Linked DNA regions of Homo sapiens. The protein of the gene in region 3 purifies or fractionates together with the protein of the main gene of each other region. This does not show direct contact. Each region holds a gene or a part of one and is shown on either strand. Other genes may lie near its edges.

Region 1 (3,755 bases), on a different chromosome or scaffold from region 3:
CAGGGCAGCAGGGCTGTCATCCCAGCAGCCGTGTCTACTCTGGCAGGAGTCTTCCGGAGAGTTCCAACCTAGGTCCCAGCGAGGACTGTGGCTTGGCCTGGAGGAGAAGCTGGCTATCAGATTTTTGAACCCACCTCCGCCCCACCCACCCCTTGGTGGTTTTAACATGCAGCTAGGATTGCAATCAAGAGGACAAGTAACTAAGATTCATGTTTTACTTTCAAAGGAGAGCAGGAGCCTGGGGTCGAGGCCCAGGGTCCCGGCCTGCTGCTGTGGATGGAAACTGACACATGGCAGATATGGAATGGTGAGTAAACGTGGCCTTCCCCTTGGCCTGTGTGAACTCCTGGCTTTGTTCTCCTTGTATGACGTGTGCATAGTTCAGTGATCCCTATAAAAATATTTTGCTAATCTTTGCCCACAAAACTGAGAAAACCTTTAGTAGCCACCCATAGATTGAGGTACTAATCTCCTACTTAAAAAACTAAAACAGAGGACTGTTGGAGTCATAGGCAAATGTTTAATTAATTCTGCTCATATGCACATCTGAAAGCATGAGACACACTCCACAGACAGCACGCACTGGAGCAGGTGGGGCAGATGGGCACTCGCCGATTAGGTATTAATGTCAATAATACGTGCATAAAGTGCTGATAAAATAACTTAAGTGTTACAAAAACAGACAGTCCACGGTGGCTGCAGGCACATGCAGGCGGGACTGGGTCAGACACTCCAGGGCTGCACATGTTCCAGCTGGCCTGAGTCCGACACGTCATAGCTGGCCTTGTACTTGGCCAGGATTTTCATGAGGGGCCGTAGCTTGAGCCACCACTGTTCTTTGGGAATCCTGTGCCTGTGGAGGTAAGAGGAGACAGCAGTGAGGCCTGCAGTCACTGGCGGGAGATGCCTCCGCCTGGCCAGCACAGCGAGCGGTCTTGCCAGAAACACAGGGTTTGTAGGGTCGGCTGAATCAACTAGATGATAAAGCCAATTTCAGGATCAAATGAAACCATTGTTTAAAATTATTCCCGAAGACCCAGTGGTGGAGTCTCGCTCTGTCGCCAGGCTTGAGTACAGTGGTGCAATCTCAGCTCACTGCAACCTCTGCCTCCCGGGTTCAAGCGATTTCTCCTGCCTCAGCCTCCTGAGTAGCTGGGACTACAGGTGTGCATCACCATGCCTGGCTCATTTTTGTATTTTTAGTAGAGATGGGGTTTCACCATATGAGCCAGGTTGGTCTCGATCTCTTGACCTTGTGATCCACCTGTCTCGGCCTCCCACAGTGCTGGGATTATAGGCATGAGCCACCGCGCCCAGCCAAGACCTAGTATTTTTTTAACTGAGCTTCAGAAAAGCCAGTTCCTCAAACCCCTGAATGAGTTGCCGACAGCAACAGCAATGGCCATTCCCCTGTCCCGTACTCACATTGGGGTCTTATTGCCTCAGGGAACCCAGCCAACTTACTCAAAATCCGTTTGCTTCTTCAGCTCTGCCACAGGTTGAAAAATAACGTTTCTTTTGCTTATTCCCAGCACACAAATGGAATCATCGGTGGTAAATTTTTTTCCTATAAAAGATTTTAAAAAAGATTAATAACACCCTGTCAACATGGGCAGGTGGGGGAGCAGAATCACGGGGCGAGATGAGAACTGAGATTCCTCAGAACCATGCTGAACCCGGCCTGGAAGCCCAGTGAGACTGAGAACAGCCGCGCAGTGGGGCCAGCACCTGGCCTCGTGCAGCTCTGCTCCTGTGGGACTGCCCCGAGGGCTTCCTGGAAAGCAGCTTTTGTTTTTTCCTCCCAGTGGAGAGAATTTTTCACTAAATAGTGGAATAGGGAAATTAGCTTAAATTACAGGACACTAATTTATGCTCACACATACACACACTGAGAGGCAAAAAGCATCCATAGCTAAATTAGCAAAAGAAAATCGCTGTAGAAAGAATCAAAGCCAAAGTCAGTTCTTCAAAAAGACAAACCCATTGAAACTATTCACATCACTGGTTTTTATAGACTGTCATTTTTCTAAGTTGGACACTGGCAGTGATAGTGGTTTGCCGGAATAAAAGCACACATCTGCTATGACTGATTAAGAAAGCTGAGGGGGGTGGGGGTGAGAAAGATGCTGGCACAAAGAGCCACTCAGGAATGAGTGGGGAACAGCCATGTTGGAGCCATTAACAAGAGTATTATAAAAAAGTCATGTTTCTTGAAACTTCAGTTTAAAGATTTCTTAGAATATGTAACTTACAGAACTGATTTAAGGAAGAACATGCACAGTTCTACGAACATGCAGTTCTACAAACATGAACAATTCATTCAGCAGTCAGATCTTCCTCAAAACTGGAAGTTTTGATGGATAGTCACAAGGAGGTTGTCCTAGCAAACATTCAAAAAATAGAAGGCCCCACTTAAACTGTGAGGGGAAATTGCTGGCCAACGTTCAGGATCTCTAGAGCAAAAAGCCTGCACAAAAGAACTGCAGACTGCATCTAGCAGTGATAAAAGAGAACATGTCATACCCAAGCTGATCTTATCCCAGGAATCCAAGGTTGGTTAAATAGCAACACTCAGAGATCAGGAGTAAAACATCACGTGCAGCTCAGTACTGAACTGAAGAAGGAACCAGCACCCTACTTCTCCCCGATAGGACAGCATTTTCACCAAGGCAGGACGGCCTGCATCACGAGGCTGTGGCCTCCCTCCCCAGACCCCTTACCTCTGCCCCGGGCCTCCTTGAGTTTTGCAGTGATCCACTCCATAGCTCTGGCAGAGATTTTGGTTCCAAAGTTTCTATCAAATGGAGAGGGTGCCCCACCCTGTTGGTGGTTAGAGTTATATGAAATACCAGTTATACAGTAACACTTTGCTGTTAAATAGAAATGACAATTTCTATTTTGCAGAATTCATGTTTTTATTTCTAGGTCCTTATAGTTGGAACAGAACAAAACCTGTGATTCCCGTAGCCTGAACTTGGCCTGTTAAGAAAAAGTATCAAGTGTTCCCCCCGCTCAGTAAGATGAGGATTTTAATAAACCGAACAAGTCAACTAACAATCTTCATTATTTTAAAATCTTAAATCAGGATTTCATGAACTCATCTGAGCTGGGGATGGGTCACAGCTTTAATCTGATAACCGTTGTGGATTCTTTAAGAAGATCACACATATGCCTACTATTTCATCATCATTGCAGGGGATTCATGGGCTCTGGCTTAAAAGTATAAGAATAGGAGGTGGTGAGGAAGGAGTGTGTGCAAGTTAGGAGGCCTGGACCCTGTGTCCCAGGCTCAGCTCATAACACGTGTGTGCCTGTGTGCAGCTCATTCCAGGTCATTCTGACTTGGGGTGTCAAGTATACTACATGTCTGATAATCCATTTTAAATCTTAGGGAAGCTCCAGTTTTTAACTTGATGAAGTGTTTAATTTGAATAAGCATTTCCAAGTAATGGGGGTATCACTGTTTTCATGAAAGCTGACAGTTCCCTTAAAATCCCCATTACTCAAACCTCACCAACAAAAGAATCCTAAAGCTGGTGATGTTTGGCATCACTTAAAAGTTCAGATGTTTTGGCTGGGCACAGTGGCTCAGGCCTGTATTCCCACCACTTTGGGAGGCTGAGGTGGGTGAATCATCTGAGGTCAGGAGTTTGAGACCAGCCTGGCCAACGTGGTGAAACCCCATCTCTACTAAAAATACAAAAATTAGCTGGGTGTGGTGGTGGGTGCCTATACTGCCATCTCCTCGGGAGGCT
Region 2 (3,500 bases), on a different chromosome or scaffold from region 3:
GAATTTCCTGATTTTTCCAGCACCATTCTACAGAAACTGAACCAGCAGCGCCAGCAAGGACAATTATGTGACGTCTCCATTGTTGTCCAAGGCCACATTTTCCGGGCACACAAAGCCGTTCTTGCTGCCAGTTCACCCTACTTTTGTGACCAGGTACTCCTGAAAAACAGCAGGAGAATTGTTTTGCCTGATGTGATGAACCCAAGAGTGTTTGAGAACATTCTCCTATCTAGTTATACAGGACGTCTAGTAATGCCCGCTCCAGAAATTGTTAGTTACTTGACAGCGGCAAGCTTCCTCCAGATGTGGCATGTGGTAGACAAATGCACTGAAGTTTTAGAGGGAAACCCTACAGTCCTTTGTCAGAAGCTAAATCATGGCAGTGACCACCAGTCACCAAGCAGCAGTAGTTATAATGGCCTGGTAGAGAGCTTTGAGCTGGGCTCTGGGGGTCATACTGATTTTCCCAAAGCCCAAGAACTGAGAGATGGTGAAAATGAAGAGGAGAGCACCAAAGACGAGCTGTCATCCCAGCTCACCGAGCACGAATACCTGCCCAGCAACTCGTCCACAGAGCATGACCGCCTGAGCACGGAAATGGCAAGCCAGGATGGGGAGGAGGGCGCCAGCGACAGCGCCGAGTTCCACTACACCCGGCCCATGTACAGCAAGCCCAGCATCATGGCTCACAAACGCTGGATCCACGTGAAGCCCGAGCGCTTAGAACAGGCTTGCGAGGGCATGGATGTGCACGCGACCTACGACGAGCACCAGGTCACAGAGTCCATCAACACCGTGCAGACAGAGCACACGGTGCAGCCTTCGGGAGTGGAGGAGGACTTCCACATCGGGGAGAAGAAAGTGGAAGCTGAGTTTGATGAACAGGCTGATGAAAGCAATTATGATGAGCAGGTGGATTTCTATGGCTCTTCCATGGAAGAGTTTTCCGGAGAGAGGTCAGATGGGAATCTAATTGGGCACAGACAGGAGGCTGCCCTCGCAGCAGGTTACAGTGAGAATATTGAAATGGTAACAGGGATTAAAGAAGAAGCTTCCCACTTAGGATTCTCAGCCACTGACAAGCTGTATCCTTGTCAGTGTGGGAAAAGTTTCACTCACAAGAGTCAGAGAGATCGGCACATGAGCATGCACCTCGGTCTTCGGCCTTACGGCTGTGGGGTCTGCGGTAAGAAATTCAAAATGAAGCACCATCTCGTGGGCCACATGAAAATTCACACAGGCATAAAGCCGTATGAGTGTAATATCTGTGCAAAGAGGTTTATGTGGAGGGACAGTTTCCACCGGCATGTGACTTCTTGTACTAAGTCCTACGAAGCTGCAAAGGCTGAGCAGAATACAACTGAGGCTAACTAAAAATAGGATCTGGCCCTTGAGTGGCATGCACAAAAATAAACTATGGTAATTAATGCAAATCTGGGCACAGATGATGCGTGCTACTTGCTATTATGAGAGAAGCTTAAAAAAAAAAAGGAAGATATTTCTGAAAGACCAGCTCTAAGTAGGCCAATTAAAAAAATCTAATTCCTCAAATTTGTGTGTTCCAGTCCTGGCCTGGAATGGGTAATGGGGTGAGTTAACCCACCGCCCAGCTGGCAAGGGAAACCTTCTGACTGGTTGTGATCGAAACAGGTGGACAGAGACACCTGCACTTGGAACTGGACTCCACCCACCAGTTCCATTTTGGGTGGCAGCAGCTTTGGATCACTCATTATTACAAGGTCATGCTGAAATTTTATTTTGCTCTTGCTATAGATACTTAGGTAATGTGGATTTGTTTTGGTAGCTATTTCACTGAAGGAAGTGCTACTTATATAAAAGCTAGAAATAATGTGATTCCTAGGATGAGAAATTGGTTAACAGAGCTCTGTTGTCTGGTTTTAGTCTTTCTAAAGGATATTTTAACTAAAACTATGGAGATGCTAAGAGAGTGACTTTCTAAATATGAAACAGATAATTTACGGTACAAGGCTGACATAGTGCCCTTGTCAGTTTCTGTAAGATGCCACTACTGTCACAAGGTGTTTCAGACTCTTGATAAGGCAGTGTTTTGTATTTTAGTTCTAACATTGAGTTTGGACAATTTTATCTAATTGTAATTCTCTAGGGTGCCAGAGATAGGTATTTCTCATTGGTTTGCTTTCCCAAATCCTGTTTGGTTAATTGTAGCCTCCATACAGTGGGGTCTTCTCTGTGGCTGGTAGACACCAAGCTGCTGTGACTGACCACGGTACCACGGGCTGCCACAGCCCCTGCTCTGTCTTAGATTATGGTGCTTTACAAAGAGAGTGGTCCATGACCACACTTAGTGAGAAGGAGCCACAAGTTGTGGCTGAGAGTTCCCTGTGAACTTGAGTAGTTCATAGAGTGCTAAGGTGACACTCCACCAACCAGAGTGAGAGGGCAGATAGGCAGGATTCTATGAGTGGTTATACTTAAGGGGGACAAAACTGCCCAAGAAGAATCTTGAGAATACACTCTTTCAAGGTGGGGGAGATACTCTTTAGAGGGTACACTGAGCTAATACTACCAGTTCTTTATGAGCACTGGAATGTGTTTGTAAAAGGAGTCCTAAGTTTAGCAAGGTAGTCTACAGAACCATGCTCCCACATTATAGATAAAGCTGCTTAAACTTAAAAGTCCACAAAGCTACGCCGACCAGAAAAAAAAAATTAAAAAAACAAACAAGAAAAGCAACTATTCTGAGACCTTTTCTGCCCATCAGTTAGATGATTTAGGTTAAAAAGAAAGGTAATATTGCACATGCTTTTAAGCTGTGTAACATACCTGAGGTTATCACCAGGGTAGGACAGGGTGCTACTACCATGTCATCTTTTCCACAATCGTACTGGGTTATTTACTTCTAAATAGAAACTTTTTTTTCTTAAAATAAAAATAATTTTTCTTGGATTTGGGGTGAAATTTTATTTGAAAAGTTTGGCTTTGCTGTAATGTAATAGACATTGCTGGCAATGGCCTCTGATTCTCAAGCTCCTAACACCAGGGTGTTTACTTGTTGAACATTGTCTGGAAAGAGGAAAGAAAATACTTATTTACCAGTTAACTCTTGTAAGCAAGATTACAAACAGGGATTTATTCACAACACTGTATCATTCTCGATATATAAAAAGCACTTTGTATTTAAAACTTTATTATAAATATATATATATATTGTTTTTTTTTAAACCTAGAAACTAGATATTACCTCTTGGTTGTTTGCCACATTAATAGCTTCTCTTAGTATTGAAACGTTACTGGTTAGCAGTCTTTTCTCTGTGTACCTGACACACGTATACTGAGGGGATTGTACAATCAAGCCTATTGTCTCCTTTTCTTTCACTCATGGTAGAGGCCAGTGGGTTTTAGGTATGATCCTAGCCATTATATTTGAGGAGAAATTGTTCTATTACTCCTACTAATTTCAGTACTAAGGTGGTGATGCCATTTTGTTCTGCCAAAAACTGATCACCCTCTCCCATGGT
Region 3 (3,500 bases):
CTCGCTCTCTCTCTCGCTCTCTCTCTCGCTCGCTTTTTTTTTTTTTTTTTGTCTTTTCAACTTTTCATAGAAGTTGGTTGTAACTTGTAAACATGTTTTTAAATTAAGAATTAAGATAAAGTGTAGTACCCGTTCCGTTACAAAGTGCCAAGACTTCTAATGTGGTTGGTTGCCTTTTTTTTTTTCCTTCCTTTCATTTTGTAAAACCTTTTTTTTTTCTAGTTTGTTTTATTGCTTTTGTGACATTGGAATTTGTGGATTTTCTCTCTCTCCCCCCATCCCTGCCATCACCAGACCCTGGGGTTCCTCTGATCGTGACTCTGTTTATCCCACACTGTTGCCTGCTCCTCTGAGGAAAAGTATATTATTTATATATATATATATATCTATATATAAATTTTGTTTTTAAGGAGGAAAGAGAAAAAAAAATCTAAAAAGTGCTTTAAAAATTTGGGAGAGGGGGCTCGGGGGAGAGGACGAAGACAGAAGTTTTGAATCTCCAAACGTGGGGGTCTAGGTGGACCGGGCGGGGGTGGGGGGGCGCCCTGAGGGGTGGTCCCTGGGGGTCCCGCCGGTTGTAAGTGCCGTGAAGGAAGGCGGCAGGAGCACCCCCAGGAGCCATCCTGGCGCCCCACCGGGAACCCCAGTCCGATCTCCTTTCTCCAGGCCTAGAAATAAATAGGTTTGTGTCTCAGTGGCCAGGAGACGTGGGGTGGGCGACGGGGGGAGGCCGCAGGCAGGGTTGGAGGCGGGGAGGCCACTGGGGAGATGGAGAGGGAGACCCCTCCCTTAGTAAGTGCCCTGAGGAAGGAGGGTGCGGGTCGGGGGACGGGGGCCCATTTTAACGTCCGCTCAGAGCAGACAGAAATCATTTAAGGTCTTGTCTGAAAGACTCATAGAAACCAGCGAGGGGAGGAAATTAAAAGCCCACCCCAGTCCCCCCCCAGCGCCCCCACGTCTACCCTCCCCCCAGCCCAGGGCCTCGGATCGGGCCCCAGGCCCCATGCCGGGTGCCCAGGGGGCTGTGCGGGGTCTCGGATTCCTTGTGTCCTACAAAAAACCCCAAACCAAGCCCCGAAACCCAGCGATGGGGTGGTGGGGGGAAGGGGAGCCAGGGAGGGCCGGGGCCCCTGCGGAGGGAGAAAAACGTCAGAAAGGAGGGAAATCTGAGAAAGCGCTACCCTAGATTCTGTGACGCGTCATATATATATATCTGTATATATATATATAGATATAGATATCTGTATATAGATAGATTTTCTTTTTTTGTGTTTTTGGGGGGGTGGTGGGTGATTTTTTTTCTCTCTCTCTGTCTCTCTCTTTCTCGGGTTTCTGTTTTCTCTTTTTGGTTTTTAGGCGAGTCCGGCTGTGAAGTTACCGTCGGTGGCGGCCCCGGGGCCACCTCCGCTGTCACCTCCTCCACCGGCGCCCGCTACATTCAACCGGCCCAAGCCGTCGGGGCTGGCCACGTCCTCGTCCTCGTCCTCGTCCTTAAAGTGCTTCTCCTGGCCGTTGCGCCGGGCGTCGGGGGAGCTGGGCTGGGCGGGGGCGCCGGGGGTCGCGGTGGCCCCCGGGCTGGGGTCGGGCGCCCCGCCCCGGACGCGGGGCTTGCGGCCGCGGCGCGAGGGGACGCCGTTGCAGCCGTCTTTCTTGAGGTGTCTGTGCAGGTGGTCGGAGCGGACGAAGGTCTTGCAGCAGCTGTCGCACTGGTAGGGGCGCAGGCCCGTGTGCACGCGCATGTGGTTCTTCAGGTCGTAGTTGTGGGCAAAGGCGGCGCCGCACTGCTGGCACAGGTACGGCTTCTCGCCCGTGTGCTTCCGCATGTGCACCTTCAGCTTGTCCTGCCTGTGGACGGGGCACGGGGCGGGCACGGTCAGTGGGGCCGGGGACCCCCGATCCCCGCCCAGGGACCCTCACGGACACGGCAGGCCCTGGATCATCACCCTTGCAGAACACGGACCGTGCACCAGAGGTTTCGGTGCCCCGATGGGGACGGTCCCTCGAAAAACGAGACGAGTGGGGGCGATTTCGCATTCTGAACATCTAAAGAGGGCCTCGGACCCTGAGTGCTGTGTGGCCTTGGGAAAACGCTATGCCTCTCTGAACCCCGTTTCCTTTCCTTTTTTAACTTTTTAAGAGACAAAGTCTAGGCCAGGCGCGGAGGCTCAGGCCTGAAATCCCAGCACTTTGGGAGGCCGAGGCGGGCGGATCACTTGAGGCCAGGAGTTCGAGACCAGCCTGATCGACACGGTGAAACCCTGTCTCTACTAAAAAAACAAAAAACAAAAAAACAAAAAACAAAAATCAGCCGGGCATGGTAGCAGGCGCCCGTAATGCCAGCTATTAGGAAGGCTGAGGCAGGAGGATCACTTGTATCTGGGAGGTGGAGGTTGCAGTGAAACTCCGTCTCAAAAAAAAAAATTTCACTTTTTAAGAGCGAAACTCCGTCTCAAAAAACAAATCTGCCAGGCGTGGTGGCGCAGGCCTATAATCCCAGCTACTTGGGAGGTGGAGGTTGCAGTGAGCCCAGATCACGCCACTGCCCTCCAACCTCGGTGACAGAATGAGACTGTCTCCAAAAAAAAAAAAAAAGAGAGGCAGGGTCTGGCTTTGTCCCCCAGGCTGGAGGGCAGTGGCGTGATCACGGTTCCCTGCAGCCTCGAACTCCTGGGCTCAAGCCATCGTCCTGCCTCATCCTCCAGAGTAGCACACGCACCACCACACCCTATTAAATAGCTATTAAACTATATGTGTGTGTGTGTGTGTGTGTATATATATATATATATATATATATATATATATATATATATGTAAGTTTGAGAGATGGGGGTTGAGCTACGTTACCCAGGCTAATCTCAAACTCCTGGGCTCAAGTGATCCTCTTGCCTCGGCCTCTCAAAGCTCTAGGATTACAGGTGTGAGCCACTGCGCCCGCCATGAACCCCTTTCCCTACCACAGAAGGAGACAGTGGGCTTCTGCCACTCCATCCTGCCCCTACCCCTGGGGTAGGATGAGGCCAGCCAGTGCCTGGTGCCTTCATTCATGCCACAGACCTTTGCCGAGCGCCCGCTGAGGGCCAGGCCCTGTTCCAGGTGCTGAAAATACCGCAAGGAACAAGACAGGCAAACATCCCTGCCCTCTCGAGGCTGGCGGCGGCCGAGGTGTTTGGTGACAGATAGGGTGACCAACTGTTCTGGTTTTAGCACTGAAAGTCCTGCATCCTGGGAAACCCCTCTGTCCGGGACAAAGTGGGGCAGTTGGTCACCCTAGTAACCAAGTCCCCACCCCACGACACCCAGGACTGCCCACTCTCCCCTCACTTCAGCGTCACTCCCCTATCTGGGCTCCACCCTGACGTGCAAAGGTGCAAAGCACAAGCTACGCTGGGGCCTTTGCATGTGCTGCTCCCGCAGTCCGGGGTACTTTCTTTTTTCCTCCTGGATCTTCACAGTCAAATTTGGGCTCAAATGTCACCTCCTTCCCCAGCCCTGTCTCCATC
Region 4 (3,500 bases), on a different chromosome or scaffold from region 3:
CCCCAGCTCCAGTGGCAGGACCCAAGCAAAACCCCTCACTAGCTAACAACAGTCAGGCTGGCTCTCTAAAGCAGTCTTTCTACCAAAGTCCAAAAGTAAGGGCTGAAAGGAAACTAGGACTCCACCCTTTACACTGGGACTTGAGGTCTGGGTCACGAACTGAGTCACAGCAACAGCCAACTGAAAACCACATCACCTGTAAGCGAGGCGAGCCCGTCCCGATCACCCAAGTCAGAAGACGCAGCATGGCCACGCGAGGCAGCAACTCCGGGCCATTCTAGGAGAGAACGGCAGGTAAGTCGAGATGAGGCTGTGGGGAGGTCTGTAACCCAGGCGGCCAACGGCAGGGCATCCTCTCACCCACGGGGGAACATTCTGGATCATACAACCGGCCCCACCACAGAAACCTCATTAAGTTTACAACTAGGTCCACAGGTGCTAACCCCAGTCAACCATGATCCTCAGGAACTAAAAACTAAATTCTGAAACTTGCTTGAAATTCACACTATGAAATCCAGAAAGACCGTAAATATATGAAGAGACACTCAACTTTAAATGAAATGCAAAATAAAATGAGATTATCATTCTTTCACTCATCACTGACGATATTAATACTATCTGAGGTTGCATTAAGGCTTTGAGAAAAGAAAACTCTTGGTGAGAGTATAGCTCAGAATATGCCATATAATCTAGTAATTCCATGTCCAATGAACCTGTCCTAAAGAAATGCTCACACTGGTTAAGTAAGGGGCATATACATACAAGAGGGCACATCACAGTGCTGTTCAAAACAGGAAAAAGTTAGAAACAACCTTAAGAACTCATCAACAGGTAAAGAGTTAAGTAAAACATGGTACATCCATAGCACAGAATCTCATGCAGCCAACAAAGTCAATCAGGTGAACTGACATGTACTGGCATGGCAGGAGAGCCAGAGTCTACAATCACATGAAAGAAGCAGTCTGACCCGTTTTTGCCTTAAAAAACCCACAACACTGTGTGAGGCTGCTGTTGGTATAAACATACACTCTCTATTTCCCCACCAGGAACTGTTCATGAGACAAAACGTGTCCACAGGCCCTGCCTCCCTGATCCCCTTTAAACCAAGAGGAGAGCAGAGCTTCCCTGCCAACCTCGTCCACCCGCCCGGGTGGGGTGTTGGGGGAGGCCCTCAGCTGGGCTTGGACAGTGAGGATCTGAAGAATCTGGGCCATCCACTCCTCCTCCTCCTCACTGTGGTGGGGCATCTCCGTCAGCACCATCTTCAGAAACGGGAAGACTAAGGAGAAGGCTGGCGCGGACAAGGGCGCAGCACCTGTGAGAGCGAGAAGCAGATAAGATTCTGCAGGCAGGGCAGGGACCCGGGCCACTGCTGCCTATTTCTATCCTCAGGGAAAGTAGGGAACGGATGGACCAGAGGCCCGTTCTGACACCTGGAAGCACATGGCACGAGGACAGAGACAGCAGCTGGTAGTCCAGTTCTAAAACCAATTCTGCTTCTACTGCCAAACACTGCCCAGTTCCAGGATGTGAGAGTTAAAACAGAGATGGGGACACCAGTGACAAAAAGTAAACCCTCAACTGGGCTCACTGCAATTCACAGACTACGAAGGTTCAATTCAGAAATCCTCCATATGGTCCAATCCCCCAGGCTCAGGAGGCCCTGGGTGACGCTGTGCCTTGAGCAGCATTCCTGGCACCAGCTCACACCGCCTGGTGCCCCTGATCCCGTCCCAGCCCTTACCTGGCTCCCCCTTGCCCACCCTGCTGGTGATGGTGTGGGTGTGCAGCAGCATCACCGCCCTCTTCACAGCCACCGACAGCTCTTCCTGGCACCAGGACTTATCCAGGACACACTCTGGCTTCAGCAGGCGCAGGGTCACGTGGCTCACCAAAGTGCCTGTGTTGAAGAGGAGAGACCCAGCAGGAGATGACACACAGAGATGTGGAATCCAGCCCAGGCTAAAACAGGGGACCCAGTGCCTCATCCTTCTGACTTAAAAAAATATTTCTGCGGCTGGGCGCGGTGGCTGATGCCTGTAATCCCAGCACTTTGGGAGGCCGAGGCGGGCGGATCATGAGGTCAGGAGATTGAGACCATCCTGGCTAACACGGTGAAACCCCATCTCTACTAAAAATACAAAAAATTAGCTGGGCGTGGTGACGGGCGCCTGTAGTCCCAGCTACTCAGGAGGCTCAAGAAGGAGAATGGCATGAACCCGGGAAGCGGAGCTGGCAGTGAGCCAAGATGGCGCCACTGCACTCCAGCCTGGGTGACAGAGTAAGACTCCGTCTCAAAAAAAAAAAAAAAAATCTTTCTGCTTCGCCAAAATGTCCCCAGCCTAATTTCTCACTTGATCTTTGTGACAGCCTCAGAGGGCAGGTAGGCAGAGAGTTGCCCTTTGGACATTTAAGAAATGAGTACGCTGACAGGAGACAAGGGCCACCAAAGAGTCATTCAGCCAAGAGTACAGCTCTATCTGTGCAGCATCTCCACCTCTACGCAACAAGCCCAGACAGCCAGGTGACACTTCTGGCAGGTTTCATATGCACCAGCTGACTTTTCCACTCAGAACAGTTCCCAGATTCTAGCCTCACCCGTGGGAACATCACCGTTAGGCCAGGATAGAAGTCTGCTGAAGGCCACTAAACAACCCACAGAAGCAAGGCCACCAGAACTGCCAGCCACCCTACCTGGTGTTTGTTTCTCCAGAGCTAAGAGGAAGCTAAAGGTCTCAAGGGCCTCTGCTCACTGCTGTCATGTGGCTGTTCAGGAGATCTGGGCTGGGCTGAGCCACCAAACCATCCTCACTGCCACTGAACTTCTGACTTCTTAGTTTTAAAACTGGTATACAAAGATCGAACACTGACTAGCATCTAAAACCTACTCCTCAGAGGGAGGGCACAGATGTGAAGTGGGAGAGAAGAGGAGGCACTACGTCTCTCCTAAGCATATCCAGCTTGAGTCTCCAAGGCTGCTTCCACAAGAAAACAAAACTCAGCAGCTGAGGTCACCACCCACCTCCCCACAAGCACTCAGGGGCACACCCTGTCCAAGCACTCAGGGGCACCCCTGGGCCATCCCTGCAGCCAGCAAACAAGGACTAACCCAAAGCCTTGAGCCTAGAGGGCATGACACAGGCAGCCAAGGACAAGAAGGGGTTCTTGATCCTGGGAGCAGCCAGGGGAGACTTCAGCAAGGGCAGAAAAGAGTCGACCAAAACAGGGATGTACTGGGTCAGGCCGGACGGGTTCTTGGCCAGGATGATGTCCAGCAGTCCAAGCGCCGCCTCCAGCTCCCCATCCAGCTGCAAGCAGAGTTGTCCAGAAGGCAGGTCAGCAGGGCCCTGCTTGTGACAGCAAGCAGCAGGACCAAGCTGCCCAGCACTCTTCCGGCTTGAGCATGTGGCGGAGGTGGCCACTCACCTCCTGCAGCCGCCTCCGGACCTGCGCCTCCCTGTCTAGCTGGGCCTGCAGCATCTCCTTCTGCTTGCTGGTCA

Evidence for each region. The genes of interacting proteins can lie anywhere in the genome.
Region 1: the proteins of ZBTB7A (region 3) and PFKP purify together in Homo sapiens (affinity purification with mass spectrometry, with the first as the bait; one large-scale study listed by BioGRID). This does not show direct contact.
Region 2: the proteins of ZBTB7A (region 3) and ZBTB43 purify together in Homo sapiens (affinity purification with mass spectrometry, with the first as the bait; one large-scale study listed by BioGRID). This does not show direct contact.
Region 4: the proteins of ZBTB7A (region 3) and GCN1 purify together in Homo sapiens (affinity purification with mass spectrometry, with the first as the bait; one large-scale study listed by BioGRID). This does not show direct contact.

What each region holds. Positions count from the first base shown.
Region 1 is NC_000010.11:3,133,548-3,137,302, reverse strand, and holds the end of PFKP (ATP-dependent 6-phosphofructokinase, platelet type), read right to left. Parts: intron 3,200-3,755; exon of another isoform or gene 3,005-3,199; intron 2,821-3,004; coding exon 2,721-2,820; intron 1,568-2,720; coding exon 1,465-1,567; intron 854-1,464; coding exon 724-853; 3' UTR 501-723; downstream 1-500. UniProt on the Homo sapiens protein: Catalyzes the phosphorylation of D-fructose 6-phosphate to fructose 1,6-bisphosphate by ATP, the first committing step of glycolysis.
Region 2 is NC_000009.12:126,832,540-126,836,039, forward strand, and holds part of ZBTB43 (zinc finger and BTB domain-containing protein 43), read left to right. Parts: coding exon 1-1,374; 3' UTR 1,375-3,500. UniProt on the Homo sapiens protein: May be involved in transcriptional regulation.
Region 3 is NC_000019.10:4,046,400-4,049,899, forward strand, and holds part of ZBTB7A (zinc finger and BTB domain-containing protein 7A), read right to left. Parts: intron 1,846-3,500; coding exon 1,353-1,845; 3' UTR 1-1,352. UniProt on the Homo sapiens protein: Transcription factor that represses the transcription of a wide range of genes involved in cell proliferation and differentiation.
Region 4 is NC_000012.12:120,156,716-120,160,215, forward strand, and holds part of GCN1 (stalled ribosome sensor GCN1), read right to left. Parts: coding exon 3,427-3,500; intron 3,309-3,426; coding exon 3,110-3,308; intron 1,901-3,109; coding exon 1,745-1,900; intron 1,316-1,744; coding exon 1,134-1,315; intron 278-1,133; coding exon 197-277; intron 1-196. UniProt on the Homo sapiens protein: Ribosome collision sensor that plays a key role in the RNF14-RNF25 translation quality control pathway, a pathway that takes place when a ribosome has stalled during translation, and which promotes ubiquitination and degradation of translation factors on stalled ribosomes.